4 linked regions of the Homo sapiens genome follow. The protein of the gene in region 4 purifies or fractionates together with the protein of the main gene of each other region. This does not show direct contact. Each region holds a gene or a part of one and is shown on either strand. Other genes may lie near its edges. The genes, in order: TNS3, C17orf75, WWC2 and DLC1.

The links.
Region 1: the proteins of DLC1 (region 4) and TNS3 purify together in Homo sapiens (pull-down; one study listed by IntAct). This does not show direct contact.
Region 2: the proteins of DLC1 (region 4) and C17orf75 purify together in Homo sapiens (affinity purification with mass spectrometry; one large-scale study listed by BioGRID and IntAct). This does not show direct contact.
Region 3: the proteins of DLC1 (region 4) and WWC2 purify together in Homo sapiens (affinity purification with western blotting, with the first as the bait; one study listed by BioGRID). This does not show direct contact.

Annotation. Positions count from the first base shown.
Region 1 is NC_000007.14:47,271,778-47,279,803, reverse strand, and holds the end of TNS3 (tensin-3), read left to right. Parts: intron 1-1,583; coding exon 1,584-1,728; 3' UTR 1,729-4,650; downstream 4,651-8,026. UniProt on the Homo sapiens protein: May act as a protein phosphatase and/or a lipid phosphatase. Involved in the dissociation of the integrin-tensin-actin complex. EGF activates TNS4 and down-regulates TNS3 which results in capping the tail of ITGB1.
Region 2 is NC_000017.11:32,333,481-32,341,548, reverse strand, and holds part of C17orf75 (protein Njmu-R1), read left to right. Parts: intron 1-264; coding exon 265-345; intron 346-1,610; coding exon 1,611-1,736; intron 1,737-3,197; coding exon 3,198-3,341; intron 3,342-3,594; coding exon 3,595-3,652; intron 3,653-6,106; coding exon 6,107-6,226; intron 6,227-6,709; coding exon 6,710-6,774; intron 6,775-6,943; coding exon 6,944-7,080; intron 7,081-8,028; coding exon 8,029-8,068. UniProt on the Homo sapiens protein: As component of the WDR11 complex acts together with TBC1D23 to facilitate the golgin-mediated capture of vesicles generated using AP-1. May have a role in spermatogenesis.
Region 3 is NC_000004.12:183,103,434-183,111,501, forward strand, and holds part of WWC2 (protein WWC2), read left to right. Parts: intron 1-8,068. UniProt on the Homo sapiens protein: Regulator of the Hippo signaling pathway, also known as the Salvador-Warts-Hippo (SWH) pathway.
Region 4 is NC_000008.11:13,506,889-13,514,956, reverse strand, and holds the start of DLC1 (rho GTPase-activating protein 7), read left to right. Parts: upstream 1-105; 5' UTR 106-355; intron 356-8,068. UniProt on the Homo sapiens protein: Functions as a GTPase-activating protein for the small GTPases RHOA, RHOB, RHOC and CDC42, terminating their downstream signaling.

The sequences.
Region 1 (8,026 bases), on a different chromosome or scaffold from region 4:
AGCGGGTGTTCCAAATTTACCAAATGCAACGGAGGAGGGCCTTCATCACACCGTTGCTCCACAGCCAGTCCAGGCAGCTGTTAGAGTTTTTTTTTTTTTTTGAGACAGAGTTTTGCTCTTTTTGCCCAGGCTGGAGTGCAGTGGCGCGATCTTGGCTCACTGCAACCTCTGCCTCCCGGGTTCAAGCAATTCTCCTGCCTCAGCCTCCCAAATAGCTGGGATTACAGGCGTCCGCCACCAGGCCCAGCTAATTTTTTGTATTTAGTAGAGACGGGGTTTCACCATGTTGGTCAGGCTGGTCTCGAACTCCTGACCTCAGGTGATCCACCTGCCTCAGCCTCCCAAAGTGCCGGGATTAAAGGTGTGAGCCACCGTGCCCGGCTTAGAGTTCCCCTTTTATAAGCACACCTTTCCCTGGCTCCCTGAGTACCGTGGCCTTGCTTGGCCTGGGCTCATTCCTGGCCCAGTGTTCCTGTCAGGGCCAGCTGAGGGACCTCATCCTAACCTCCCACTTGGAGGCACAATGGGCTGTATCCCCCCAGCCTGGTTTCCTCGGCATAACCCGGATTTAATGACCACAGTGCCTGATCACAGGCATCCTTCCCTGGAATCCTGTTTTCAAATGGCTTGTCTGTCCAGGAAGTTGCTCAGTGCATGCGTTAGCAGAAGCGGGGAGAAGGAGAAGAGACCCTGGTACTGACGAGCTGGGCTTCCCCGGTGGGGACTGTGTTCTGGGCACACTCCCACTCTGGCTGGTAGCAGAAACACGGGCTTTCATGTGCTTGGAATTTGTGACTGTATTGGGGTTACCTGAGTGTCATTGACTGGTCCCTTCATGATGCGGAAACTGCTAAATTTAAACAAAAAAAATCCTTCATTTTTCTAAGAAAGAGAAGAAAGTCCTTTGCCCAGGACCTGGATAGGGATATGGTCATTATTGTGTGAAGTGCAGGACTCATAAAAGCCTATTAAGATAATGGCTCTAATTCTTCTAAGAAAAATAATTCGATGGGCTGTTCTTTTTAAACAGCTCCCTGAAGTCTATGTAGTTTGTAATGCAGGCTTCCAAGGCCTGAGAGGAGCGCCTAGTGTATTTCCCCTTCGGTCCCAGTGGGTGGGAGTGTCGAAGTCCAGACAGGACTTGCATTCTGGCATCATCTCAGGAGCCCCTGAGTCCCTTGCCACTCGCCTTGCAGACTGTGGTCCAGTATGTCAGGACTGGGGCTCAGGAATCTGCAGGGACAGGTGCCCAGGAGATTCTGGCCCTGGCGTGGGGAAGCATCTATAGAGGAAGTTGAGCCTCAGCTTTGATTCAGGTCCTAACCTGGGGCTGTGGACAGGGCACTCACCTCTCAGCCTCAGGGTCCTCACTGCAGAGCTAGAGTCAGACATCCCATCTGTAGGTCTGTGAAGGCTGGAGGTAAAGTGCATGAACAGGTGGCCAGCAGGGTGCTGGGCACGTGGTTGATTTTTGATAGGTGCCACTTAAAATTCCTCCTGACAGTGCCGCTGGCAGCTGGAGGAAGTAGAAGCTTGGTACTTTGTGGGACACTGACCACTCTGACTGGACTTTCCTTTGGCAGAGTCTTTGGATTTGTGGCCCGGAAGCAGGGCAGTGCCACGGATAATGTGTGCCACCTGTTTGCAGAGCATGACCCTGAGCAGCCTGCCAGTGCCATTGTCAACTTCGTATCAAAGGTCATGATTGGTTCCCCAAAGAAGGTCTGAGAACTCCCCTCCCTCCCTGGACCCACCGATGCCTCTCGAAGCCCTGGAGACAGCCGTTGGGTGAGGGTGGGGCCCCCACTTTTTACCAAACTAGTAAACCTGACATTCCAGGCCCATGAGGGGAAAGAGGATCTTCCAGCTCTGCAAAAACAAGAACAAACAACATCACCGTGAATTGGCCTTTCCTGAAAGTGACTTATCTGACACATCTCTGTAGCCACATGCTTTTTGGGTAGAAGAAGCTGGGCATGGGTGCACCCCACCCCCTAGGGTCCCCATGGGAAAGGGACATGCAAGGAAACAGCACAGAACACGAGGTGGTCCCCATGTCCCTGGCACACTAGCATTCCGGGGGATGAGGAATCCCCAGCCCTTGAGGCAGAGGTGCCGAGTGACTGCCATGCTTCGCCCGTCCGCATGGGCGCTTCTGTCCAGCTGCACCCGAGGCCGGGGGTTTCCCTCACCTCGGTCTTCCCAAGATGGAGATGCTAACGAAACTGAGAAGGGGGCGTATGTTTGACGAAGGTTTGTGCAAGTCAGGCCCTTCTGGAACACAGCAGGGCCTACAACGAGGGGCCTTTGCGATGGGCTGTGAGGATGGGGGTGGTGGGAAGAATTGGCCACGTTGGAGACCCCATGCCACCCCACCATGGTGAGTGCTCTGTGCCTCCTGCTCACCTGTGGTGAGCTGGGCGAGCTGGGCGAGCTGGGCGAGCTGGGCTGGGGAGAGCCTGTGAGGACCGAGAGGAGAAATGAGAAGAAGGAACAAAAATATTATTTCTATGTAATTTATATTTTACTTATGCCAAATTATTTATGATAATTTGCCATTGCTATACTGTACCAGTGTCAAATGCTGCAGCCTGCCAAGCTGTGATTTTGTGAGGCTTGTCCCTATGTAGGATGCACCGCAGGCCCCTGGCCACTGAAAGAGTGTGCAGTGGACTGTGGGTCTCCCATATGCGGTGCCGCCCAAAGGTGGCTTTGCCTCAAGCAACCTACCCTGATGTTTTACTCATTGGAATGTTTTTCCCCGATTGTGGATGACTTCTTTTCTGATGGAGAGAGTCCAGGAGGGATGGAAAACTCCTGGATTTAAGCTCAGCATCCCCCACATGGGCTTTTCGATCATCTTCAGGCCTGAAGCTGCACGACCTGAAGTTCGCCTGCATTTATCAGCCCTCTTTGTGCTGCTCCTTGCCACCTTGGGGTTCCTGCTGGGGACCATGTGTGGTTGTGGCATGTGTGAGCAGAAGGGAGGATGAGGAAAAAGAGAAGAAACCCCGGTACTGACAAGCTGTTTTTGAGTGCCACTGTTTGCCATCATCTAAGCCACTGAATCAAGTGTATTTCAGGCTTATTTCAACATTCCAATGCCCTGGTTTTCCTGCTTGAATCTGTTCGTGGTCAAAGGTTTGGGGGAATTTGTGACCCTGGAACATCCCCAGAGTGAAAGATGGAGCTGGGCCACATCAGAATAAGGCCTTGGCCCCATCCTCTCACAGCCTAGGTGCTCTGCAGGCATGCTGACTGTCCTGATTGCGATCCAGCCCGAAATTCCCTCCTCTGCTTTCAAAAGTCAAATCCCCCATTCTTAGGCCACACTGGTGTCACAAGCTCCTGTCAGGGAGCTGGGGTTTGGGAATGTGCTTTGTGAACTCTGCTTTAAAGTGAGGGGCCGAGGAAAACTTAGAAACAGGCAGAGTTGGAAGCAGCCAAATCACAGTGGGTGTTGTGTGTGTGTGCGTGTGTGCATGCGTGCGTGTATGCGTGTGTGAAAGCAGGTGGACCATTCCACTTTTTAGCTCCTATTGATGCACCAAACCAAGTGCCTCATTTCTGTGCCAAATGTTTGCCTTGGTCGTTGTGGACCTCCTTCTCTAACTTGCGGTGGCATGACTGTCAGGAGGTGCTGGCATTTTCAGCAGATCCTCATGTGTTGACCCTGATGTCTTTAGCAGAGGCCTCTAGCATCTCGGTTTTTCATCCACTGCAGGAATGTGGCCACAGGGAGCAGAGGTTTGTACTTTCCCCAAGAGGTCCTCATCCTGAGACGGTCTCTACCCATGTTTAACCCAAAGAGTGCAGGCCAGGTTCCTTATCCTTCTGATGAAGGATGAGAGAGCTCATTTAGAAGTCAGAGCAAACTAGGGTCTCAGTATTGAGAAACGCAGCCTGCCAGGGAATCACAGAGACATCGGGGTGCCCGCGATGGCCCTCATGAAGCCATGCCTCGACGGCATTCAGGAAGCCCTGCAAACGTGCTTTTTGAACTCATTGGCCAGGTGTGATTTTTACACAAGGTAAACGTGGTCAAGGGCATCGGGGAATTTGCTCCAAGCAGATAGCTCCCTCTGAGGAACCAAAGGAAGCAAGTTTCCACGATTTCTGAAGAGCTGGTATAGGAAGTTTCTTTCTTCCTTTTGTGTTACATGTGCATTAAACAGAACAAGCTGTGTGTCATCACAGATTGTACTGTGGGCTCAGAAACCGTGAGAGAGCCCCCACCGTGGACACCGGCTCTAGGGCCACAGGAAAAGGAACGTTTCCAGGCATTTTGTCTCCAGGGCTCCCGCTGGACAGGCACGTACTGCCCTGGGGAGTAAATGCGGAGAGTTCACGAACTGTGCCCAACGCATGTTATAGCCAGGGTCCTACTAACTACTCAGTAAAAGAACGTATTGTTGTATTCCTCCAGTGTTAAGCTATAGCCATGTTAAAAGTCACTGTGCATTTATTCTCAGCATCAAATACCTTGTAACGTCTTCTCTGCCTTGTTAGTGCATATTTTTACTTTTCTGATACTGTAAAGAATATATCCAGTATGTAAATGAATGTTCTATAAATCTTTTGTATAGTCATTTTCTCTGCTCCTTAAATATCATCTCTATTCAGAGTATAATAAAATTATGAACTTGGTAAGCCTCCGTGAGACGGTATTTGTGTACCCTGAAGTATGTTTGTGTGTGTTTGCACATGTGTGTATGCGTGTGCATGTGTGCACTTTTGTGTATGTGTCTCTGCAAATGTGTGCATGTGCTTGCACAGATGTATCTTTGTCCACATGTGTCTGTGCGTCTGCGTGTGTGCTCGTTCATGAATGTGTGTCTGTGTGTTTACAAATCAGTGGATTCAGTTATAAAATCACAAATGTTTTGCTGTCAGGAATATATTAAGATTTCTGCCCAGAGACCTTTGAAATGTTATATTCAAAGATCTTTGAAGATTAACCACAATGCAGTGTTGATAATGGGTCCTGACATGTTTTCGATGTTGCTATGAATACCCCTACACACACACTGGCTGCAGAAACACACCCCTGAAGTGGGCCAGCTCCTGAAGGACCTCCCAGTGTCTATTGAAGTGGGCACTAAAAGTGAATATTGAGACTGGTGGATTCACTTACACATCAACAGATGCTGGAGACAGCCAGTGTCACCTGCCTCTTCTGTTCCCCCAGCCAAGGCTCCTCCCTCCCCACCTTAAGGGAGTTTGCCCTTTTCTACGGACTCTGCCCTCTTGGGCCTGTCCCCTCCCTCCTGAGTCAGGTGATGGGACACAGGACCCCATCTAACCTCACTCCCTCAGATCCAAACCAGAAAAGAAGCAATGCTTTGGGCTCATTTGGTTATGGACAGATAAAGATGGCAGTTAGCTGCCACCCTGTGCACAGTTTTCTGCCTGCGTGGTCAGCCCCCAGAGACTGTAGCTTTCCACTCTGAGGAGACACAGAGATATTTCACCCCAGCTATGTTGGGAGAGTGAACTTGAAATGGTCCCGGTACTACTGCTTTGGAGCAGAAGAGAGGGCAGGTGGTGGCAGATTAAATCTTGTCCAACAGGAAGCTCCCATTGAGTCTTTGAAGCCAGTCATTGCCCAGACCTTTGACCAATGTCACAAGGTGGAAAGGTGGACAGGGCATTGATTTCACTGCGGCTTAGGGAGTGTGCTTCCCAAGAACACCATACTTGTCACAATTACTGGGCTCCGTACAGTGTGCACATGTGCCTAGGTCCCCGACCAGAGCCAGCCCTGGGGACTGTTGGAGAGACCCAGTGGCCATGAGACCTCAGCTGGACAGGCCCCTGCCACTTGCTGCAGGAGGATGTTATGGGTCCCCCATTCATCTCTCAGCAATCTGTTACCTAATGAGTACCTGGGCCTTACCTACTGGGGTCGTCCTTCTATTAATGTGGTGGGCACCTTGGTCCGTCCACTTGGGGGGTCATTGATCTATTGTGTAATGAACACTTTGGATCTGCCCACTGGAGGACAGTAGGTCTGTAGCTCAGTTGGGCTTCTGTGTCTCATCCTGTCCCCAGGGAGGTAGGTTGCCTGCCTGATGGCTTTGGGGATCACACTTCACAGACCAGGGGCAGTTGGGCTGGTCTCAGAGGATGAATTGGAGTTTTCCAGGTAGACTTGGGGCCTGGACTGGGAAGGGACATTTTATGATGCAGGGATTGGTGAGATCTGGACACATTTGGACAGAAGGGCTGTTGAACTGGCAAACAAGATAAGTGGGAAAAACACAAGTCGCCCTTAAATTCCTGAAAAATCAGTTCACAGTGTGAAGCCTGGCCTGAGGCAACAGAACAAATAGGTCACCAAGAGCCTATCACCAAGCCAGATGACCAGGAAGAGGAAACAGCAAAAGGGACTCCACTGCAATGATTGATCTGGCCGAGGGAGCCTCTCTGTCCCATCTCAGAGAGTCCAGGGTTGGGGGGCTGGAGAAAACAGCAGGATCCCCCTTAGCCCCACCTGGGAAGCACACTCCATCTCCCACAGGCAGGGGACCCACCAGAACACACACCAGGCCAGGAAGGTTTCATAGCTGTGTGCTGGCAGCTTCCCTCTCCCACTGAGAGACACCCCTTCTGTCCCTCAGGTAACGTCAGCAGGGACCCCAGAGGTACCTGATAAACCAAGCAGACTAACATAACGCTGAAAGGCTCTGACGATTAAACTGTCAGTGGGACCACAGGCCACAAATCAGGCCAGGCCCTGCTCCCTAAGCAGAATCAGGGCAATTACCTGCTAAAATTAAATATTTAAATAAGACCCAGAATTCCCTAATAGGTAAAATGGGATACAATAGAAAATTCCTTTCATACCAAGTACCAAGAAATGTGCAGCATGAATGAGAAAGACAATGAATGCCAACGTCAAGATGAACCAACTGCTGGAGTTATCTGGCAAGGATCTGAAAACAGCCATCATAAAAATGCTTCAAGAGGCAAATCTGTTGAAGAAATGAAAAAATAGAAAGCCACAGTAAAGAAATAGAAGTGATGAAGAAGAACCAAATGGAAATTACAGGGCTAAAAGGTATAATAACAGAAGTGAAGGAATCTTACTAGATGGATTCAGTAGTAGACTAGTGGAAATGGCAGGATAGAATCAGTGACTGTGGCGACAATGTAATTCACTCAATCTGAATAACACAGAGAAAATAAACTAAAAAAAAGAAAAAGAACACCCACAAGAACCTGTAGGACACTAACAAAAGATCCAACATTTGTATCACTGGTGTGCCCAAAGGAGAAGAGAGAGGCTATAGAATATTTGAAGATTAATGGATAAAAATTCCCCAAATATAGCAAAAAGACATGTATACATCAAGAAGCCAAGTGAACTCCAAACAGGATCAACAACCACAACCAAAATCCATGCCAAGAAATATTGTAATTAAACTTCTGAAAACTAAAGACAACCTGTAGGCAGCCACAGAGAAATGATGGATTCTGAATAGGAATAGGAGCACACCAATTGGAATGACAGTGGATTTTTCCTATGAAACCATAAAGGCCAGAAGGAAGCTATGCAACATTTTCCAAGGACAGAAAGAAAATAAAAATCAACCATGCATTCTATATTCAGTGAAACTCTCCTTTAGAAATGAAGAGGAAATAAAGATATTGTCAGATGAAGGAAACGAAAAGAATTAGTTGCTAGCAAGCCTACATTTAAAGATTGACAAAAGAAGTTCAAACACAAAGGAAATGGTAAGAGAAAGCACCTTGGAGCATCCAGAGGGAAGAAAGAAGAATGAAAAGAGCAGAGCATGAGTCATACAACAAACCCTCCTTCTCATCACAAGTCATCAATCACATCTGATGATTGGAAAAGATATTACACCACCGTCTGATACTCAAGACAATGAAAGGAAAAAGTGAGAAATATGAAAGAACGTATATGGAGGTGAGACTTCAACACAAGTAGTAAAAGGTTGATAAAAATAGTGATGTTATGAATATTTTTGTAATAACCAGAGCAACCACTACAAAAACTATG
Region 2 (8,068 bases), on a different chromosome or scaffold from region 4:
GGCCTTGTCAAGTTTGGTTTTTAAAGGAGTTTCCTTGAACCTTCTGGGTATTTAGCCTTTCCTCCACCCGTTAAGTGGCCTGGAGAGAGAAGGGGCTCTTGTCAGCACTGCTGTATGGGTTTTCCTTGTCATGAGGATAGGCAGTGCACTTCCACCTTGCAGCATTTTTAGTTGACTCCTTGCCTTACCCTGCTTGCCAGGCCCCCATACTCCTCTTGGTTTAGAGCCCATAATTGATAGCACTATTGGTTTTGTGGCTTGTAGATTGGCACAGCAACGAGGGGACAGTGAGGACGGAAGCCCAAGTGGCACAAATGCAGAAACTCCCTCTGGTGATGATTTCAGGTAAAAAGAGCTTCAGCATAATTCATGCATGTGCTTTCATCTTCCCTGCATCTCTGGCCTGTACATGTCAGTGGATACTCTATTTCCACTGAGCTTTCCCTGAGTCAAACCGTCAATTCCTCCTATCCCCTAGGAACCTCATCCTGATTTCCTCATTGGCTGGTTCATTCAAGGCTGGGGCAAACAAATCCACATACTGATAGTGTGCTTGGTGATTAGCCAAAAAGAAATCCTTTTTTTTTCTTTTTCCTTTTAAATTGAGACAGGGTCTTGCTCTGCTGCCCAGGCTGGAGTGCAGTGGCATGACTTTGGCTCGCTGCAGCGTCAACCTCCCCGGCCTCAGGTGATCCTCTCACCTCAGCCTCCCCAGTAGCTGGGACTACTGACCACCACGCCTGGCTAATTTTTGTATTTCTGGTAGAGATGGGGTTTCACCATGTTGCCCAGGCTGGTCTTGAACTCCTGGACTCAAGTGATCCGCCCACTTCTGCCTCGCAAAGTGTTGGGATTACAGGCATGAGCCACCTTGCCCAGCCCTGAAAAATTTTTTTTTTTTTTTGAGACAGAGTCTCCCTCTGTTGCCCAGTCTGGAGTGCAGTGGTGCGATCTCAGCTCACTGCAAGCTCTGCCTCCCGGGTTCACGCCATTCTCCTGCCTCAGCCTCCCGAGTAGCTAGGACTACAGGCACCCACCACCACGCCCGGCTAATTTTTTTGTATTTTTTTTTAGTAGAGACGGGGTTTCACTGTGTTAGCCAGGATGATCTCTATCTCTTGACCTTGTGGTCCACCTGCCTCGGCCTCCCAAAGTGCTGAGATTACAGGCGTGAGCCACTGCTCCCGGCCCCAGCCCTGAAATTTTTAAATCATCAATTATACCTCAATAAAGTTGAAAGATAAAAAAGATAAGAATGTGTGCAGGGGTGTGATTATAATGACTGACCATGGAATTAAGGCAGAATAAGGAGGGAAGTGAGATGAGAAACTTGAGAGACTGAAAAAGAGGTAGGGTCAGTGGATTGGGGGTTCCAGTGGAGTCACAGTACTGGAGAGAATGAGCTGGAAAGATAGGAATATTTTAAGCTATTTGATGAGGTAGATCATACTTAGTGACATACATTCCTAGAAGCCTCACCAATAGGGGTCATAAGGACAGCTTTCCCCAGTCCTTAAAAGAGCCCCTGGCGTTGGTACCATTCTGTCTGACTTAATGGGTGTGAATACCCTAGTCCACTGGTAAAGAATGTGTGTCTTTCATTTGTCAAGCCTCTCCTTGGCAGATACTAATCTACCATCCGAAGTGGAGCCAGAGCTGCGCAGTTTCATTGCTAAGCGTCTTTCAAGAGGTGCAGTCTTTGAAGGGCTGGGTAATGTTGCATCTGTGGAGCTAAAGTAAGTGCAAAATGTGCTGTGTCCTGAGTTTTTATTTCTGAACTAAATATGAGAAGTGATGAGAAACTCCAAAAGATCAGCTCCTACTAGACCTGCAGAATTTGTCTTTATTCTCTGGCAGCCCGAGCACTGGGCCTCACACATAAACATTTGTGGAATGGAATTAATTGAATGGCAGAGACCCTGGCACCCAATTGCACTTTATTTAATTAGTTTATTTTTTTTTGAGACAGGGTCTTGCTTTGTTGCCCAGGCTGGAGTGCAGCGGCCCGATTACAGCTCACTGCAGCCTTGACCTCCTGGGCTTAATCAATCCTCTCACCTCAGCCTCCCAAGTAGCTGGGACTGCAGGCAGGCACTACGATGCCCAGCAATTTTTTTAATTTTTTTTTTTTTTTTTTTTTAGAAATGGGGTCCTACCATGTTGCCCAGGCTAATAAGTTTTGTACTTAGAAGAAGAAAAGTGTTGATTATTAAAACTAAATTTGTATACAGTTTGTATTTTCACAAACTTTTATGTAGTTTTCCTTACAAAGGGGAAATATAGCAGATACTCTCTTATTTTCATTTTCAGATGAGGAAATAAACTCAGAGTTTATGTAAACTTAAGTCATGAGGCTGGTCAAATTGATGGAGTTCAGGCTTAAACATGAGCATTCTTAGTCCAATTCCAACTGTCTTTCCATTACACCTCTCCTTTTTTGTTTTGTTTTGTTTTTTTTAAGACAGAGTCTCACTCTGTTGCCCAGACTGGAGTACAGTAGCATGATCTTGGCTTACTGCAACCTCCGCCTCCCTGGTTCAAGCAATTCTCCTGCCTCAGCCTCCCGAATAGCTGGGATTACAGGCATGCACCACCATACCCGGCTAATTTTTGTATTTTTAGTAGAGATGGGGTTTCACCATGTTGGCCAGGCTGGTCTCGAACTCCTGACCTCAGGTGATTCACCCGCCTTGGCCTCCCAAAGTGCTGGGATTACAGGTGTGAGCCACTGTGCCCGGCCTCCATTACACCTCTTTATTCTAGTTCAACTCAGACCGTGAAGTTAGCATACAGGTCCTCAGGAGTTTGAGGCCACTTCCCAAGGATAAGGCCACCTTCAGGCACATCTGCCTTAAACATCAATTTGTGAAGCTTTGGGAGAGGGGAGAACATACTTTTTTTTAATATAAACATGGGTATGAACTAGAGTGAAATTTGTGTGAATTTTTCACATAAGACAGGAGAATTCAAAGAAATTTCATGTATGTTAGTGGCTGCTTTAACTAAAGCCCTCCAGGGTATACATTCATTTTTCTTTGCTGCTGCAAGTACACCAACGAGAAGTCTGGGAAGCTCTGAGTTAGTGGGCAGTTTAATGGTGTTGCCAGATCAAGATGACCAGAATTCAGAGCAGTCCACAAAATTATAGATGCATGAGTAACCAAAATAATGCATTTTACATTTTCTTTCTTTTCTAGAATTCCAGGTTACCGAGTTGGTTGTTATTACTGCCTTTTCCAAAATGAAAAACTGCTTCCTGAAACAGTAACGATAGACTCTGAACGTAACCCTTCAGAATATGTGGTCTGTTTTTTAGGAGGGTCTGAAAAAGGACTTGAGCTATATCCTTTCTTTGGTTTTTGAGAACATCAGGAAGGAAAACATGGGAAGGCAGGTGGAAGAATATTACTACCAACCTCCAAAAAGCTTTTCTACTCCTCGTGTATTTAGTTGAATTTCATACCTTCATGTGGCCATTTTGCCTTGGCTTGTTTGCATTTGCAGCTCACATTATTTGAGAGATTTTATATTTCTTGTTGAGAGATGAAATACTGTCTTCATTATTCATCCTTTATTGCTTCCTTAAGAACATACTTTCAGGCTTGAATTGGACAAGTACATTCAAGGGCTGAAAAATAACATGAATTGTGAGGTAAGGTGACTGACTTAATGGTTTTTAAAGACTGAAATGGGGCCAGGCTCAGTGGCTCACGCCTGTAATCCCAGCACTTTGGGAGGCCGAGGTGGGCAGATCACAAGGTCAGAGACCAGCCTGGTCAATATGATGAAACTTCATCTCTACTAAAACTTAGCCAGGCATGGTGGCAGGCACCTGTAGTCCCAGCTACTTGGGAGGCTGAGGCAGGAGAATCGCTTGAACCCGGGAGGCAGAGGTTTCAGTGAGCCGAGATTGCACCACTGCACTCCAGCCTGAGCGACAGAGTTAAAAAAATAAAATAATGACTGAAATGATTAATATACTGTGATTGCTCTACTTGTCAAATCATATAGGTAGACACAAAGACGCCTGTATTCTAGAAACTTGCCACCTTGTGAGCTAGTAGAGAGGTGAATTTTTTTTTTTTTTAGACAGGGTCTTGCTTTGTTGCCCAGGCTGCAGGGCAGTGGCGCGATCAGGCTCACTGCAGCCTCAGCTTCTTGGGGCTCAAGCAGTCTTCTCGCCTCAGCCTCCTAAACAGCTGGGACTACAGGCAAATACCAACACGCCTGGCTAACTTTTGGTATTTTTTGTCGAGATGGGGATCTCACTTTGTTGCCCAGGCTGGTCTAGGATTCCTGGCCTCAAGCAATCCTCCCTCCTCAGCCACCCAAAGTGCTGAGATTACAGACACGAGCCATTGTGCCCAGCCTACAGGTGGTTTCTTTTTCTTTTTCATTTTTTGAGATAGGGTCTCACTCTATCACCCAGGCTGGAGTGCAGTGGCACGATCATGGCTTACTGCAGCCTTTTCTGGGCTCCAGCGATCCTCCCACCTCAGCCTCCCAAGTAGCTGGTACCACAGGCATGCACCACCATGCCCAGCTAATTGTATTTTTGGTAGAGGTGGGGTTTTGCCATATTGCCCAGGCTTGTCTTGAACTCTTGAACTGCTGAGCTCAAGTAATCCACCTGCCTCGGCCTCCCAAAGTGCTGGGATTACAGGTATGAACCACTGCACCCAGCCTACAGGTGATCTTAAAGGGATACAGGAAACATAGTCCTGTAAGTGCTGAAAGTTTCACAAGACTACGTCTGATGTTTTGTATCTATGAAAAATTCGATCTATTCAATGGCATGTAGTAACATGCCTGGCGAGGAAGAGGATGTCCTTTTCCTGATTTCTAGGCATATAAGATTTATATTATGGTCAGAAGTACTGGTCCATGCAGCCTCTGGCACCAAAGACATGCTATGCAATAGTATGGCTGTTCTTGAACTAAACATCAAAGATTCTTAAAAACATTCTATTTTCATTAATTGATCTTTTATGAATTAGGCATATCCATATCAACTTATTCAAACCTTTGAAAAACTGGCTGGGTGTGGTGGCTCACACCTGTAATCTCAGCACTTTGAGAGGCCAAAGCGGGCAGATCACTTGAGCCCAGGAGTTCAAGGCCAGCCTGGGCAACAAAGTGAAACCCCATCTCTACAACAAATACAAAAATTAGCCAGGCATGGTGGCACGCACCTGTAGTCCCAGCTACTTGGGAGGCTGAGGTGGGAGGATCGCTTGAGCCTGGGAAGTTGAGGCTGCAGTGAGCTATGATTGCACCACTGCACTCCAGCCTGGATGACAGAGTGAGACCCTGTCTCAAAAAAGCAAACAAAAACAATGCTTTCAGCTTGTAGCAGTTGTTAGTCATGACTCTCACAAATTTACTACCCATTACATATATAGTAGAAGTTATACTTTTCACATACTTAGAAGATACTGCAGGAGAGAGGAAGGGATAGTGCAGGAGTGAGCAACTGATGCAAGTCTAATAGAGTTGTTCTCCCGGACTAGAGCTCTTCGTGTGTGACACTAGTCTTCAGGGAGCAGTATAGCCTAGAAAGCCAGATGTGCTCACGGTAGCATGTCTGACATCTGGAGTGGAGTGGAGTGCTTTGATGAGTTACTTGTATCCTTCCCCATTCACATTCTGAATACGAATGAATTCTCTATCTACATGACTAATTCAAAAGGCACTTAATAAGCTCATACTATGCATGTTTTAGACACTGTACCACAGGTGCCAGGGAAATGAGGATTATTGAGTGAGTATCTCCATTGAGTGCACAGTACAGTGGGAGGAGAGGGACTTGTGAGTGCCCAACTCTTCCCTGTGAAGAAATAGCATGGAACCCTATTCAGTCTCTTCATTTTATAGAATGCATTTCTTGGTGTGTTTTAAATAAATTCAGTACAGATTTAACCCTCACCCTGCCCAACAAGCCAGGAAAGGTATATCACAATTTCTTTTTTTGAATTGGTGGTGTTAGCTTTAAAAAGGGAGGTGTCTATCCTGGTCTTTTTCACCATCAAGGATATGATGAAGAAAATATGAAGTCCACTAAAGGAAAGGCTTATATTAAAGCAAATGATGTTCTTTCTTGATTTAGGCAAGGGGCCTGGAGAGTCACATAAAATCCTATCTGAGCAGCTGGTTTGAGGATGTTGTATGCCCAATCCAAAGGGTTGTTCTTCTCTTTCAGGAAAAGCTTACCTTTCTGCTACATGCTGTAAGTACTGCCAAATGAGAGCATTTCCTTAACTGAGAATCACTTTGGATGATTTAGAAACATACTCATTTTCTCTGAACATGACTCCCATCCCTCCCCAAATATTCAAACTATGCTTGCTATCAAGATAGACCACACTTTATTTTCTCAGATCTAGAAAGTGATATTACTAAGGTAGAGTTGAATTTCAAATGCTGAGTCTTCCTAATAGGATAAAACATTTTAAAATAATTACTTTTCCAAGTGATCTGGGAAAGGTATAGTTTCCAAAACAATTTGAAAAGGAAAACAAAAATCCAGAGCAATTTTGATTCTATAAAATGTTAATGAGCAGTGGCTGAACAAGGCTCTGGAGAGCTTGTGACCAGTGCCCATCAATTGTTGTCCAGTGTGGTAGGGACTTATGGGGACATTTAGTCATGAGTAGCTGCTCAAGAAAAACTGGAATATATGTACCAATCAGGCTTTATTTTTCTCTCATAGGCTTTGAGTTACACTCCTGTTGAAGTTAAAGAATCAGATGAAAAAACAAAGAGAGACATTAACAGGTAAAGAACAGTTTTTTCAAAGAGAAAAGCTTTTCCACAGCAAGATTGACATCTGTGTTTGTAAACTGCTCCTTCCATCCCTTCCCCACCAGCCCAGTGCAAAATAAATTTGTTTTCATCCTTCCGTCCTGCAATATTGTTTGTGGAAATGGACTTGTGTGTGTGGCAGGTTTCTGAGTGTGGCCAGTCTTCAAGGACTTATTCATGAAGGCACCATGACTTCTTTGTGCATGGCCATGACAGAGGAGCAGCATAAGTCTGTGGTCATCGATTGCAGCAGCTCCCAGCCTCAGTTCTGCAATGCAGGTGAGCTACAACCTCTGAAGCAGCCTTCCTACATCTCTTGCGAGTCCCCATCTTTGCACTGAGAGCCTATGATACAACCTTATTCTTCCTGCCTTGTGCAGTTTTACATGGTTATCTCAAACCATGAGAAACCACTTGGTGAAAACAATATAATTCTAGAAACATGGAAATCATGCCATGCCTAGCAATTCCACACCTAGGTACATAAAGAAATTCTAGTATGTGTACACAAGGAGATGAATTTTAAAATGTCCATAAAGGCATTACTTGAAAAAGCAAGGAATTGGAAGCAATTTAAGTGTTTATCAACAAGAAAACTGATAAGCTGCTATATTCATGCAATGGAATATAACAGAGCAGTGAAAAAGAATGAACTAGAGCTACTTGTGTCAATATAGCTCTCAAACATACTATTTAGTGAAATAGCCATAAAAGAAAAAATACATAAAAGTTTTAACATATGCAGAATAATGTAGATAAGGCTTACACGTGCAAAGGTATATGGGAAAAGTTTAAAGACGTCTGTGGGAATGATTATCCTCTCTGATGGGAAAGGAAGGGGGATGTGATTGGGAAGGGGCATACAGGGGGCTTCAGCCATTTTGGTATTCCTTAGCCATGTGGTGAGCACACTGTTTTTTTAGGCCATTATACATGTCTTAAATAATTCATTATAGGTGTTTTTATAAAGAAATAAATGGGTCAGGCGCAGTGGCTCACACATGTAATCCCAGCACTTTGGGAGGCTGAGGCAGGTGGATCATCTGAGGTCAGGAGTTTGAGACCAGCCTGGCCAATATGGTGAAACCCCATCTCTACTAACGATATAGTTAGTACTCCGGCTGCACTCCAGCCGGGCAACAAGAGCGAATCTCCCGTCTCAAATAAATAAATAAATAAAGCTTTGTAAAATTTCATTTTATTTAGTCTCTCTGAAATGTTTTATAGGAAGTAACCGGTTTTGTGAGGATTGGATGCAAGCTTTTTT
Region 3 (8,068 bases), on a different chromosome or scaffold from region 4:
CTCCTGTCTCAGCCTCCCGAGTAGCTGGGATTCCAGGCGCCTGCCACCACGCCCGGCTAATTTTTTGTATTTTTAGTAGAAATGGGGTTTCACCATGTTGGCCAGGCTGGTCTCGAACTCCTGACCTCAGGTGATCTGTCTGCCTCGGCCTCCCAAAGTGCTGGGATTACAGGCATGAACCACCGCACCTGGACTTGTGTTTCTCTTTTTTTTTTTTTTTTTTGAGACGGAGTCTTGCTGTGTCGCCAGACTGGAGTGCAGTGGTGCCATCTCGCCTCACTGCAACCTCCGCCGCCTGGGTTCAAGTGATTCTCATGCCTCAGCCTCATGAGTAGCTGGGATTACAGGCACCACCATACCCAGATAATTTTTTTGTATTTTTGGTAGAGATGGGGTTTCACCATGTTGGCCAGGATGATCTCCATCTCCTGACCTTGTGATGCGCCCACCTTGGCCTCCCAAAGTGCTGGGATTACAGGCATGAGCCACCACGCCCGGCCTGGCCTTGTCTTTCTTTCAAAGTCTAAGTAATTTCTTTTTTTTTGAGACAGAGTCTCACATTGTCGCCCAGGCTAGAGTGCAATGGCGCGATGTTGGCTCACTGCAGCCTCCACCTCCTGGGTTCAAGTGATTCTCCTGCCTCAGCCTCCCGAGTAGCTGGGATTACAGGCACCTGCCACCACGCCCAGCTAATTTTTCGTAGTTTTTTTTAGTAGAGGTGGCGTTTCATCATGTTGGCCAGGCTGGCAAATTAAGTAATTTCTATGAACCCACTGCTAGACTGTAAACTCCTGGAGTCCCCGATTGCTTATTACTGCTTTTTGAATCCTTTATACATGGTATGTTAAATAAATGTTGGTTAATTTAGTTAATGAAGACAGTTTGTTAAATTAATGAAAGAATATTAATTGAGCTACTCTCTTATTTCCAGATTCTTACTGTTGGGCTTTCAAAAAATAAACCCATAGCCACCAACAGAGACAACTGACTTTCCAGTTATATTTAAAATAATAAGAGAATTGAGCTGCTACATTTTGAGTAATAGTATAAATATGAGAATTACTTATAAGAGCAAAGAAAACAAAATGAACCTTGATAGTCTTAATCACAACTGCCATTGTCATAGACTGCTGGAATTGTTCCTCTCCAGCAGGCCCTGAGTCTGGGTGCCAAGTGGTTACTGTGAATTATTTGAGTGATTATAGTATTTGAAGTGTGGAGAGGTTGTTAAAAGAGGATTAAAAAAATCACTCTAGGAAGCACTAATTTAAAGTATGCTGTCTTCCAAAAATTCCAAAAGAAATATTCTTTTTAACACAGTTTGGTATAATGCTTGCTGGAGTGAACAGTACTATAGTTGCTTAGTATATTGGAGGGTCTAAGAGTTCTCCAGTGACATTAATAGTCCATAGCTTGCAGTGTAATTTTGTTGGAAGACTCAGGACAATAATTGCTTTTTAAATAAAATAAATATTTTATTTATTTATTTTTTGAGACAGAGTTGGCTCTGTCGCCCAGGCGGGAGTGCAGTGACACAATCTCGTCTTACTACAACCTGTGCCTCCTGAGTTCAAGTGATTCTCCTGCCTCAGCTTCCTGAGTAGCTGGGATTACAGGTGCACGCCACCCTGTACCCGGCTAATTTTTGTATTTTTAGTAGAGATGCGGTATCACCATGTTGGCCAGGCTGGTCTCAAACTCCTGACCTCAAGTTACCTGCCCGCCTTAGCCTACCAAAGTGCTGGCATACTATTATCTTTAAATATGTTATTTGTTTTGAGCTGCAAATCCCTAAGCTTCATCTACATAGTCAGCCATTGTGACATGTGGCCTTCAACAAGTTGGTATTTAAATTTAACCAGAGGAAGCCCAGGTGCACCAGGAAAAGCGTGGAAGTTGTCTGTTGGCCCACACTGCCGGGCCCTGCATTGCCTTGTAAATGGCTCTTGCTTACTTATTTTCAGTAATTGTCTGTAGGAAAATGAGATTATCACTTTAGAGGGGCATGGCCAGCTTCTTCTTGCCGATGCAGGAGTTACTAAATTAGCAGGAAACAGTGTTAGCCCTAATACACTGTGAATTCCTTATGATAGGGCTTGAGTCTGTATGTATGCCCTGGTTCCTATGAACTTGATTGAAATTGGTTAAACTGATCTTGTGTTAGAATTTTGGACTTGCCGGGCGCTGTGGCTCACGCCTGTAATCCCAGCACTTTGGGAGGCCAAGGCGGGTGGATCACGAGGTCAGGAGATGCAGACCATCCTGGCTAACACAGTGAAACCCTGTCTCTACTAAAAATACAAAAAATTTGCCAGGCGTGGTGGCGGGTGCCTGTAGTCCCAGCTACTTGGGTGGCTGAGGCAGGAGAATGGCGTGAACCCGGGAAGCGGAGCTTGCAGTGAGCAGACATTGCGCCAATGCACTCCAGCCTGGGTGACAGAACGGGACTCTGTCTTAAAAAAAAAAAAAAAAGAATTTTGGACTTCTTTATGCATTTCTAAACTCCTGTTACTGAAAAAGTTACCACAGAATAATGTAGAAGAGGAAAGGGATTTTTTTTTTTTGACAAGAGTTTTATTCTTGTTGCCCAGGCTGGGGTGCAGTGGTGTGATTTCGGCTCACTACAGCCTCCGCCTCCTGGGTTCAAGGTTCAAGCAATTCTGCCTCAGCCTCCCGAGTAGCTGGGATTATAGGCTCTCGCCACCACGCCCAGCTAGTTTTTGTATTTTTAATAGAGATGGGGTTTCACCATGTTGGCCAGGCTAGTCTCGAACTTCTGACCTCAGGTGATCTGCCCATCTCAGCCTCCCAAAATGCTGGGATTACAGGCATGAGCCACCACGCCCGGCTGAGGAAAGGGATTTTTAAAGGCACAGTGTGTATGTAAGTTGTGAGATACAAATGATTTATCAAAATATAGGTTCACAATGTTTTCAATGTCTTCAGTGATTTTTTCCAATTATTTTATCTTTATTAGATTAAAAAAATTCCTCAGCATAAAATTATTCATTTTAACCATTTTGAAGACTACACCTTAGTAGTTTTTAGTATATTCATTGTTATGAAACCATAAACACTGTATAATTCCTGAACATTTTAATCACCCCCAAAACAAACGACCCCTTACCTATTAAGAACTCACTTCTCATTCATCTCCCGTCTCTACAGCTTTTTGCAAAAACTGATCTACTTTGTGTCTCTGAATTTGCCTATTCTGGACATTTTATATAAATGGAATAGTAAAATTTGTATCCCTTTGTATCTGGCTTCTTTTTTTCTTAGTGTAATGCATTCAGGGTTCATTTTGTAGCATTTATTGTACTACTGCATCATTTTCATGACTTAATAATATTCGATTGTGTAGATATACCATATTTTGTACTTTCATTAGCTGATGTGCATTTGGGTCATTTCCACTCTTTGGCTGTTATGAATGATGCTGCTATGAATATCCCTGTACAATTTTTGTATGAATGTGTGTCTTCAGTTCTCTTCAGTATATACATGTCTAAAAGTGGAGTTGCTGGGTCATATGGCAGTTCTATGTTTAACTTTTTGAGGGGACTGCTAGACTGTTTACCACCATTTTACATTCCCACCAGCAGGGTATGAGTGTGCAAATTCCTCCACATCCTCACCAACACTTCTCTCTCTTTCTCTCCTTCTCTCCTCTTTCTGTCTCTCTCTTCTCTTTCCTTCTCTTCTCTTCTCTCTTTTCTTTTTTTCTTTTCTTTCTTCTTTTGAGACGGAGCCGGTCTCTCTTGCCCAGGCTGGAGTGCAGTGGTGATCTCGGCTCACTGCGGCTTCCACCTCCACCTCCAGGGTTCAACAGATCCTCCCACCTCAGCCTCCTGAGTAGCTGGGATTATAGGCACAAGCCACCATGCCTGGGCAATTTTTGTATTTTTAGTAGAGACGGGGTTGGGCCGGTCTCGAACTTTTGACCTCAAGTGATCTGCCTACCTTGGCCTTCCAAAGTGCTAGGATTACAGATGTGAGCCACCACAACTGGCCTCACTTCTTTCTTTTTTTTAAAAAGTTATTTTAGTGGGTGTGAGGTAGGATCTTACTGTGGTGTTGATTTGTATTTCCCTCTTCGTAGTGTTTTGATGGCCTTAGTTGGGCCCAAGCCTCCCCTTATTCTAGCCTTTTATAGCTGTTGCTATTCTGCCCCCTTTTTGTTTGTGTACTCTCACTCTTACTTGATCAATAAAAAGTTAGGTAAGAGAAGTTAGAGGGTTTTTTTAGTCTCACATTGCTCTTCCCTTTTCTCCCTATCTGATTGCTTTGAGTGATTATTTAATACTGACATTGTAGATATGCATTAATTAACAGTTTTTATTGTATCAACCAGCCAGGTACCCTGGACTCTGGGAGATAAAGATGGATAAGATTTGGTCCCAGCTCAGCTTGCCTACAATCTAGTGTGCATAATCATCATTTAAAAAGTGAAAGAAAATTTTGAGTATTATCTGTTAAATTTTCTCTATATTCCTATATTTCAGTTTAAGGGTACCTTCTTCCTAAACACTCAGAGGGAAGACAGTTGAAAGGAATTAAAAGCAGAATATATTGGCAAAGTATATATTAATTTTTTTCTTTATTTCAAATGTGATGTATTTTATGAGGCATTTGTGTGAGTCACGTAATGAATCATATGTGCAATGTATATACATCAGCTTATTCAAAATGATTTGACATGTAAAGGCTTTTCCTTTTAGCTCGTTATATATGTGAAGAATTAAATTTATTTTTGTTCATTGTTTTTTTAAAAAATGGCAGGAGCAAACCTGACAAGCGCTGCCTCCATCAGGTGATCAAAGGGAACATCCAGGGCACTAAGTCCTGCTGATACACCCTTGATGTGATGTGGTGACAATGGCATTTTATCTTTGTGGTCTTTCTCCCCCAAAACCGTAGTAACTCCAGTCTAATCTTGAGAAAAACACCTACTGGATCCCAGTAGAGGGGTATCCTATAAAATACCTGACCAGTACCCCTCAAAACCGTCAAGATCCTCACCAATAAGGAAAGTCTGAGAAACCCTCACAGCCATGAGGAGCGTAAGGAGACACCAAGACTAAATGTAATGTGTCCCAGGGGTGGAGGAGTCCTGGGCTGGAAAAAGGACATTAGGTGAAAACTAAGGAAATCTGAATAAGGTATGGATTGTAGTTAAAATTTTTTTTTTTTTTGAGACACAGCCTCACTCTTTCACCCAGGCTGGAGTGCAGTGTTGTGATCTCGGCTCACTGCAGCCTCAGCCTCCCGGGTTCAAGCAATTCTCCTGCCTCAGCCTCCCCAGTAGCTGGGATTACAGGCATGTGCCACCACACCCAGCTAATTTTTGTATTTTTAGTAGAGATAGGGTTTCACCATGTTGGCCAGGCTAGTCTTGAACTCCTGACCTAGTGATCTGCCTGCCTCGGCCTCCCAAAGTGCTGGGATTACAGGTGTGAGACACCACACCCGGCCCGATTGTAGTTAATTTTATTAATGTTAATAGATGTACCATACCAACAGGGAAAAGTAAGTGTGGACTATATATGGCAACTTTCCACACTAATTTTGTGGTTTTTTTTCTATAAATCTAAGACTGTTCTAAAAAATAAAATTTTAAAAGACCTCTTAAAAGTCACACAAAACGAAGTGATTTTCTTTGGTGGAAGCATAACCATGTTTGTTGTTTATATGAAAATTCTGCTTTGTAGGCCTCATTTTAGCCCTCCAGCTAAGAATGGGTTTTAAATCATGAAAAGCTGTAAACAAACAAACAAAAATAAAGAAGAATATGTGACAGAGACTAAATGTGGTTCACAAAGCCTGGAATGTTTACTTTGGCCCTTTACAGAAAGAGTTTGCCATTGTCTTTAAAAATTTTATAGCAATATTTTTAAATGTTTCTATAAATATTAACCTTTTATGATAAAATGGCACATTTATTAGTGATCATTGCACATTCTTTTATGCCAGCAGTCCCCAACCTTTCAGGTACCAGGGACTGGTTTTGTGGAAGACAATTTTTCCACAGAATGGGATTGGAGGAGTTGCGAGGGATGGTTTCAGGCTGAAACTGTTGGATCTCAGATCATCAGGGATTAGTTAGATTCTCATAGGAGCGCACAGCCTGGATCCCTCACATGTGCAGTTCATTATAGGGTTCGCTCTCCTATGAGAATCTAATGCCACCACTGATCTGACAGGAGGCGGAGCTCAGGCGGTCATGCTTGCTCGCACCACACACCTCCTTCTGTGCGGCCCAGTTCCTAACAGGCCATTGACCGGTACCAGTCTGTGGCTAGGGGTTGGGAACCCCTGATTTATTCCACAAGGGATTTGGACTCTAGGTACTGTGTGGGACAAAGGTGAGTCAGACATGGGTGCTGAATTTGAGGAGCTGTCTTGTATCTCATGTTACTTTTTTTTTTGTTTTTAAAACAAGGAAATGCAGCATGTTACTTAGTTTCCCAAACTGGTTCTTTGAATTAGCTGGACCTAATGGTAGTGGAAATAGGTCTGTTACTCTTAAGGTAAGAATGATTTCATGGGTCCCTGTTCAAATGTAGCAGCCTGTGGATTCTGTATACCTCATGATTATTTTGATGGAAAATCAAGAGACATCTCTGGGCACCTGGCTTTGCCATGGCAGGGCCTAAAGTAGAGATTGCTTTTGTGGTGTAGAGACAGCTCAACCCCAGTCACTCAATAAAGTTACCAGATACCAGGCGCTGCTATATAATTCTTAAGAAGAGTTGTACATAGGACATGAGAAAAACAGGCAAAATGAATTTTTGGAAGTACCATAGTTGTTTGTTTATACTTGACTGTTGGAAGTATATAGTATTATGCTTTGGTAGTTAGAAATACTGACTTTCTTGTGGCATATTGATAATATTTATAAAATTACTAGGTGATGATCAAGCAAAAAATTATTCCATATATTATCCTTGTGATGCCTGTCACTTTGAAGCATGTCCCAAAGACTGCTCTGTAGAGCTATTTTTTTTTTTTTTTTTTTGCTTTGTCAGTAATTTTTCCTATACTTTTTGCCCTGATGTCAGTAAACAAATCATGGTTCCAAAATGGAGCCAGCTCAGAAGTGAGGTAGTCATGCACTAACAGAGTTATGTATTGGGAGCTGTTTTTTCACTCCTGTAGCTCATGAGGAATTACAATAGTTCCAATAGAGCATTTGAATAAAGGTGTACATTTAATGTACTTTGGTTTCACTAGGAGTGGAGGTAGGAAATTTAATTTTAAAGAAGCATAGACATTGTGTTATGACAATAATCACTTTTAACTAAGTAAGTGTCCCTGGTATTTTTGTGAAAATGAGTATGTCAACATTTGGAAGGCAAAGAGGCTTTCCTTTGGTGTGAACTTTGCTCCTGCTGCATGTGCAGTGTTGTTTTCTGGTGTGGCCTGGGTTGTGTTGGTCACCAGTTCTGAATGTGAACAACAGAGGTAAACGTTGAATTATAGAGATTGGTGCTACAAACCCCTGATTAAAATCCTGATTTACAGGGCTGGGCTCGGTGGCTCACGCCTGTAATCCTAGCACTTTGGGAGGCTGAGGCGGGCGGATCACGAGGTCAGGAGATTGAGACCATCCTGGCTAACATGGTGAAACCCCATCTCTACTAAAAATATAAAATAATTAGCCGGGCGTCGTGGCAGGCGCTGGTAGTCCCAGCTCTTCGGGAGGCTGAGGCAGGAGAATGGCGTGAATCCAGGAGGCGGAGCTTGCAGTGAGCGGAGATTGCACTACTGCACTCCAGCCTGGGCGACAGAGCCAGACTCCATCTCAAAAAATAAAATAAAATTCTGACTTACTAATGGACTGTAGAATACGTTGCATACTTTATTGACAGTTGTGCATTTTATAATTGCATAATTGGTATGAAGTGGCAGTGATATTCAGTTAAGTTTAAAATGTGGTAGACAACTTTGCACAAGATTTGAGGAGCATGTAGTTTCATTTAGTGTGAAACTTGAATCTACTCTGCAGTTTTCCTTAGCATTATGGTTTTTAATAGAGATACATTAGAATTCCAGTCTTTTTTTTTCT
Region 4 (8,068 bases):
TCCCCTCTCTTCGTACAGCCTTTCTAGCATGCACACTCCTCAGAGGCAGGAAATACTTTCCAGGCAATCTGGGCCTGGTTGTGGAGGCCCCTTTTGCAAAACCTCAGTCTGAATTTAGTAGACAGAAGTCACTAGGAATGCCTTGACAGGATCCTGCCTTAGCTAAGGCTCCCTCCAGCTGCAGAGGGTGTTTTTGTTAGACTCACACACTGCGTGAAACTGCTCAGAATAGAGCCATGATCTCAACCACGAAATGGGAACTTAGATTTTGGAGAAACTAACGGGGACGGACTTCTTTCCTAGCCTGAGTGTTGAGCAGTGTCATGCCTTGGCGTTTCAGCTCCTCGTTGTCTAGGTAAGACGCTATGGACTATCTTTATGCTTTGAGGCGGTCTTTGAAGAGGCAGAAAGATTGAGATAAATGTTAGCATCTTGCACGGAGTTGGTGACTTCCTAGGTTTTAGAGCAAAGCCATAAAATCAGAAGTGGAAAATGTTTGATAAGTAGAAAATTCTGAGTCAATTCGTTTTAGCAAACTGTCAGTTCTAAAACAGGCTCCATATAGATTTAACTCTTTTCCTCCATAAAGTAAGATTTTATTTTTATCCCTTTTTACGTTTAACTTATTTATTAATTGAGCTGTCGGATCAGTTTTCCTATTTCTTGGCATAACGTGAAACAAATACATTTTCTCACACATCAGTGTGAGGTGTAAATGAATTCCTCCCCTACCTTCCTTTGCCAACAGGGAGAGTAGAAAGCACCCGAGTGACTTGTGCTTAATAATCAGTCTCCAAAGAGTATTTTGTGTCTCATTTAAAACTACGAAGATTGAATTTCTTATTATTTTACCCAAGCCAGTTTCAATCATATGTCAAGCTTCTCCTGTACAGCTTAAAAGGTTCATTTAAAAAAAAAAAGTAAACACGTGAAATTTCAGGAATTATTTCTGTCCTAAATAGTATTTAATCTGAGTTTTGGAAATTTAAATGTCGGAATCGAATTTAGTTTATATTAATTTTCCTGGATTCACTGCTTGCTCCGGTCACATTTTGTGTAATATTTTGAATAACTGAAGTCAATCTCAATGACACTGACACTCATTATAACTCTTTTAAGGCAGCCAGAAATCACTCCAGTCATATGGAAACTGTTTGTGTCCTTACTTATGTAATCGTAAAATTACATTTCCACCTGACTGTAGTCTCTTCAAGGTAATCTTAAATGTTTAAATGTACAATATATTAGAAAAGAAGTTTAGTAATGACCGAAAAAGTGTGGACTTATAATGCATAAGATACTGTTATATTTCTGAATATTTATAATAAAATTCATCATTTTATAGAAATAAAATGGTACATAAAGGGAAGAAATATTCATGTACATTTTCAAATCTATTAGATGAATACAAAATATACTAAGTGAAAGATGGAGAGCTATTTTGACAGTTGGATCATAAGAAATGAAGTAACTGTTTTCATTATAAGTTTTTATATAGTACAAGGTGACCATCTGCTATATTAGCTATTCTCAAATTTTATGCTAGAATAACTTATATTGATAAATTTTAACTATTCACTGACAATTTGTGTTAAAACTTCTTAAATATGAGAAAAAGAATCTACTTTTTATATATGTGGAAGATAAAATACTGACTTATCTAAATTATGATTTAATTAAAATCTCCAAATGGAATTTCAGAGAAGGAAAGAACATAAGAGATGGTCTCCTCTAACAATGGCTTGAGGTTGTCTACAAGAAGCTGAGAAATGGGATTTAAAAGTGACCTGTCCAAGGTCACACCTCTAGCTAATAGAAGAGAGGACAGCAGAACCACAGTGCCCTGATTCATAATTCAGATACCTTTTTATCCCATCATCCTGCCCTCCCATAATAATTATGCATAATGAAGTATGAACATGTCCAGTAGAAGGGTGCTTTGCAGACAGAAATTTGCAGTTCCTCTAATTTAAAAAAAAAAAAAAAAAAAGGTAAAACTGTCACCAATGTTAATTATGTGGGGAAAAAAATCCTAACTTTAAAAAAAAATCAAATCAGTATGCCTTCAATAAACACTTTACAGTAGTAACTTGCTTTATGACTATTTTATTATATTTGATGTTTATGTCAAGAAAATCAATCCATATGCTAATAATTATATTAATTTTAATCTGATGTTTCTTTAAAAATAGGGCTAGAAAACAGCTTTTCTAATTTATATCCTTGTACTCAAATGATCATAATGAAACTGTCCCAACCAATGACTTTCAGAGGCAATTTTACAGCACCACCCCCAGGCATCCTTTCTTCTATCTAGCCTAAATCATTGTTGCTGTAGCTTATTTCAAGTTCTATGTGGGTCTTTTCACTAAATATATAAAAAGCCTAAGTTGACATATAAAAAATATGTTTACATTTCTCCAGCATGTTTGCAATCCCTTAATTGATTTGTATGTCTGCTCTAAGCCTTCTACAAAGTCATTTAATTGTAGAATGCAGAATTTTTACAGTATATAAATAAATGTCTGAACAACGTGGTATAAAATGGGAGCGTGGGCTATTTCATCTGCATCATACTTCATATATGACAATATTTGTTGCTGTGTGTGCTGAAGCAGTATACCTTCTCAGACAAGACCCTTTCTCATAAATGTAACACATTCCATTTCTAATAGCTGCCATTTCCTTAGAGAGAATGTGTCACGATACTTTTTTTTTCCATTTTCATGACCAGATTGAGTTTCCTGATGTTATTACTACTTAAAAGAGACACTATTCAACACTTCCTTTCAATGTCACCACACTCTACATTATTGGAATGAGAAATAAGTGCAGTAAAGTGGTGGCCCTTATAGCTGACTGCCTGATTCCTAGAAGGCCTAGTAAAAGATAGCACATCACTTCATTTTCTTCATAAGGACATTATAATTTAAAAAAAAGAATTTTTTCTCTCTCTGTCTATACCTACCCATACCATATAACTCACTACAAATACTTATGGGATGGTTTAATCTTATTCATAGAGTTTTAGATCTTACAGGCTTAAAATAGGTCAAAAATTGATCATTTGAAATTTGTCTTTTGTTTGTTTTTTGTTTCCTCTTGAAAAATGAGTGATGTCAGTGTTATAAAATGAGAATCACTCTTTAAAAACTATTACAGTATGGCAAAGTTCCAAATGACCAAGATCTAGATCAGGGATTTTATTATCAAAATAGAGACATGTCAAGAATTGCACATGAGAATTGGAAGAGGACAAGGGAACACTGAAAACTTTCAAATTTGAGGGAAGTAGTGTGAATATTGGGCCTGCTTTCCCCACACGAAAGATAAGCCCCTTGCATAAACAACATAGACCAAACAGAGTTACAGAGAAGAATGACTCTTGATTGACTTTGGTGTGATAGAGAAATACAGTGTTTACTTCTATGGTTCTGTTTTGGCTTTCAACTGATAGTTTACAGAGTTTTGATAAATAAATGGGCTAATTTTTAAGAAAGTTAAACAGAATAATAATGAATAAACTAGGACCTTGAGGCCCAGTTAAAAAAGATTGTTAATTTTGATTCAGTGGATTAGAGTATATAAATGAACTTTAAAAGATTAAACAGTGACTCAAATGCCAAAAAAAAAGGTGAAAGATAATGTAAACAGCATGCATATGAACTTGCTCATTAATTGAGATAAATGGGTGGAAAAGACAATTGCATGTGTGAAAAGGTTGTTTCTGTATTAGCTTGAAATAACAAAGTGTTTTAGCAATGCAATTCAAATAATTCAAAGAGAAAATCAGCCCTGTTAATGGAAATGAGATAGAAAAGAAGTAGGAAGATCAAACAGCAGGTTTAGATACTCAATTAGTGTTTCTTTTATTCCCAGCAATTAGCAAAATACCTAGCTTGCCAGGAATTATCAACACTTATTTGTCAATAAATGTTTGTGAAATGAATGGAAGGAAAAGCGAAGGAAAAAAAAAAGAAAGGAAAACCAGGGTTGAGGAATGGTAATGTGTGGGAGTTGGACTTCTTTCTTATTTTCCAGACATCCTGTAATAATAGAATAATAATTTCTAAAGGGGAAGGAAAATAAGAGGTTGGAAAGAGTCATCAGAGCCTGGGGCCAGAGGTTAACAACACTCTCATTAGATGACATTTCAAGTTCATTAAGCACCAGAAGGAAGCATAGGCATCCAGAAATGGTTTGAAATTAAAAGTTACATGAGGCCAGTGAGAACAGAGCACTAGTGAATTTTCCACATTTTAAATGGGGTGGTGTACCGAAAAAAATAATGGACAAAGTTAGAAAACTGGCTCTGATTTCCTCTTAACCACTTGACGCTCTGTGATTTGATGTTTGCCCCGTAACTACTTTGAGTTTCTGCTTTTTATTAGTAAAGTATGGGATTTCCAGGTCATGTTAGGCATTAGATGAGATTTCATGTGTGCAAATTGTTTTGCATACAGTATAATCAACAAGTCCTTGTTTAAAAAGGCATAAGTCAATTAATCAAGAAAGAATATGGGAGGCCAAGGCAGTCAGATCACCTGAGGTCAAGAATTCGAGACCAGCCTGACCAACATGGTGAAACCCCATCTCTCCTGAAAATACAAAAAACTTTAGCCAGGCATGGTAGCAGGCACCTGTAATCCCAGCTGCTCAGGAGGCTGAGGCAGGAGATCACTTGAATCTGGGAGGTGAAGGTTGCAGTGAGCCGAAATTGTGCCATCACACTCCAGACTGGGCGACAAGAGCAAAACTTCATCTCAGGAAAAAAAAAAAAAAAAAGAATAAAGAATAATTGTGTTTCACTCACATTTTGTTCTAATCACTCATCTATATTGAAATATCATGGACATAGAAGAGATAGTTTCAGCTCATACTCAGCCCTGGATTCTGCAGCTAAGATCAGTTGAAAGCTAAAGGAGTCATCATCACCATCACCATCACCATCATCATGATCAAGTCACTTTACATCTAGTGAGTGCTTGAAATGTGCCATGGACTAAGTGTTTTACATATATTATAATCTCATTGTTATTAACTCATTATCATTTTCCCCTCAACAGTTTTTTCATTATTCCCATTACAGAACTGAGAAAACTGAGGTACATAGAATTTAGGTAACTAACCCTAATCACCAGGGGGAAAAAAGTTATTTCACAGACATCCTCACAAAAATGGGAGACAATTCCTGCCCACCAGTATGTATTTGACACTGAGCTAGTTAATCAGTCCTGCCAAAATTCTTCCCTATCAAATTAATTAGAGCAATAATGGTATTTGTTTCATACAACATTTGTATTACTGCTAAAGGAGATAGCTTCTAAGTAACACACCGAATACAGTACTTGGCCCATAATAAGTGCTTAATTAATTGAAGGATGTTTTTACTATAATTATCATTATAAGTTTCTAATGCACTTAATATTTCTTAGGTATTAAGAAAAACACTTGGTGATAAAAATAAGCTCAAACATTTATAGGTAGATGACATAATTAAGATGAGATGATAGAGATGTATGGAAGACAAAAGTTGATAGCAGAGACATTGACCCCAGGTAGGACACCAAGCTAACAGAAGTAATTAAGTTCCTAATGACATCTTGTTCCTGATTTCAGTGAAAATTGTGCTTATGGAATGACTAAAAATGTAATTCCCTACTGTCAACTTGCTATCTGAGCACCTGGGTTGATGTAGCTATATCTGTTATTTACGCGGAGTGATTACTGTGTCTACTGTTGGAGTGTTCTTAGAAATGATAGCAAAGCTAAAAATAAAGTGACCACTTAAAGCAAAACCGCATCTCACCATGATGATGATAAAACATTATAATCCGTGTTCCTTGTTGAATAAAAATATCTTTTTATAATACAGCAAACCACATTTCAATCATACTGCTTTGCCATCAATAATAAAAAGGTCAGCCACACGTTTAATATCAACTTTAACCCTAGGCTATTTCCTGTTACATGAAAAATTTCAAGTGAAACAAGATCAGAGGAAAGGCAATACTTCTCTTTATTGTAAGAGGTTCTACAGAAAAGAGATATTATGGCAAAGAAGATAATTATTCATTAATGAATTTATTTGCAGAATTAATCTAAGGTACAATGTATTTGTAAATGCCCAAATTATTCTGCATAGGATCAAACAGTACTATTAAGAAGATTGCATACTTAAAAAAAAATAAAACATGGAGATCCAAATAAAACATAGATACTTAGAAATTACTACATCTGGCCGGGCGTGGTGGCTCACGCCTGTAATCCCAGCACTTTGGGAGGCCGAGGTGGGCAGATCACGAGGTCAGGAGATCAAGACCATCCTGGCTAACACAGTGAAACCCTGTCTCTACTAAAAATACAAAAAAATTAGCCGGGCTTGGTGATGGGCACCTGTAGTCCCAGTTACTGAGGAGGCTGAAGCAGGGGAATGGCATGAACTCGGGAGGCAGAGCTTGCAGTGAGCCCAGATCGCGCCACTGCACTCCAGCCTGGGCGACAGAGCGAGACTCCGTCTCAAAAAAAAAAAAGAAAAAGAAGTTACTACATCCATAAAGCAATATTGTCCCACATGGCTCTGTTAATTCTGGGATCTCCTAGAAACCAATATCCCCAGAAAGATCTCAGTGATATCAGGAGAATATCATAAAATATTCCCAGTTTCCTCAAATTACATGCGGGTTGCTTAAGAAAATGTTAAGAGAATCTCCAAATCTGGCTGGCTTGAGCCATAAAGTGGGTGGTAAGTCAAACACTGCCAGTATCTGCTCTCCTCTCTGCAAGAAAATTAGACACTACTGGAAGCGACATTAAATAGCAGCAACCTGGACGTAAAAATAGAGCACCGCTGAAATAATAGCTTGCAGTTTTGCAACACCCTGCTCTTTTCTCATGAGCTGACTTCTAGTGGATTGAAAGAGTTAACTTTCAAATTTGCCTGAATCACTGAGGGCTAAGAATAAAAAAAATGTTTTAAGTTGAGTAAAAACTCAGATATACCTAAAAATGGGTTAACAATAAAATAATATTTTTCAGCTGGGTACCTATTTCTTCATTTTTCTTCTAAAGACTAAACCTGATGGAACGTTGGATGTGTATTTTGGAAAAAGTGAAACACTACTTATTCCCCTTACTTGGCTCATTATAGATGACTTATTCTTTAATTTGGTAAAGTTTTTGATGCTTTCCAGACAGCCTAAAGACATGGAAGCTACTTCATATATAATATTTTAATCTCCATTAAGCAATTTGCCAATAAAACTTTTAACAGGGATTCATGTTTTCCACTAACATGTAATGAGGTATAACAAGTACATTCCAGCATTAAACAAAGTATGTAAAAGTAGAGGAATAATGATTTTGTGTGGGATTAAGACACATATTGCTACTAAAGAAAGGGAATCTGCATGAAATCATATGGAGGTAAATTCTTGCATCATGTTATTAAATGTTTATCCACCCACAGTCTAATTCTAGTCTTGTCTAATTTAGATTAGATAACATGAATATTTTAAAGGAAAAACACTAATTGTTTTTTACTGAAAGTTGGCTGTCTGGACTAGACTCATAGAAATGCTTTTTAGAAATGTGCTCTTACGGTTTTTGCTATTTGTTTGTGTATTTACATAAAGGAATTAAGAAACATAATATCTTCCCTGGGCTTTCTGGCTTCTAAGCATATGTCAAGTCAGTTTGGTCGTAAAGAGCATTCCTCTTCATTTATCACTGAGCTGTGTGCCAGTGGGAAGGCGCCCAAATGTACACAATTTAGTTTGCTAGGTAATTTGTTCTTTGACATTATCATTAAGAAAATGGGTTTCATTTTGGCTTCCACAAATGCTCTTTGTAATGAAGATTTACTTTGACATGAGTTGAAGAACTATATTAAGTTGTGCTCCTGTGATCATGTCTGTTTCCAGGTTGTTGATCGTCTTTTCTAGTTGCCTAATTCAATTCAGTAAGTGTTTTGGGGGCACATACGATGTACAAGTGTGAGTCCCCAAGAGTAGGCTAAGATACAGTAAGATTTCATATCATTACCAGATATTCAGGTTTCCAACATATG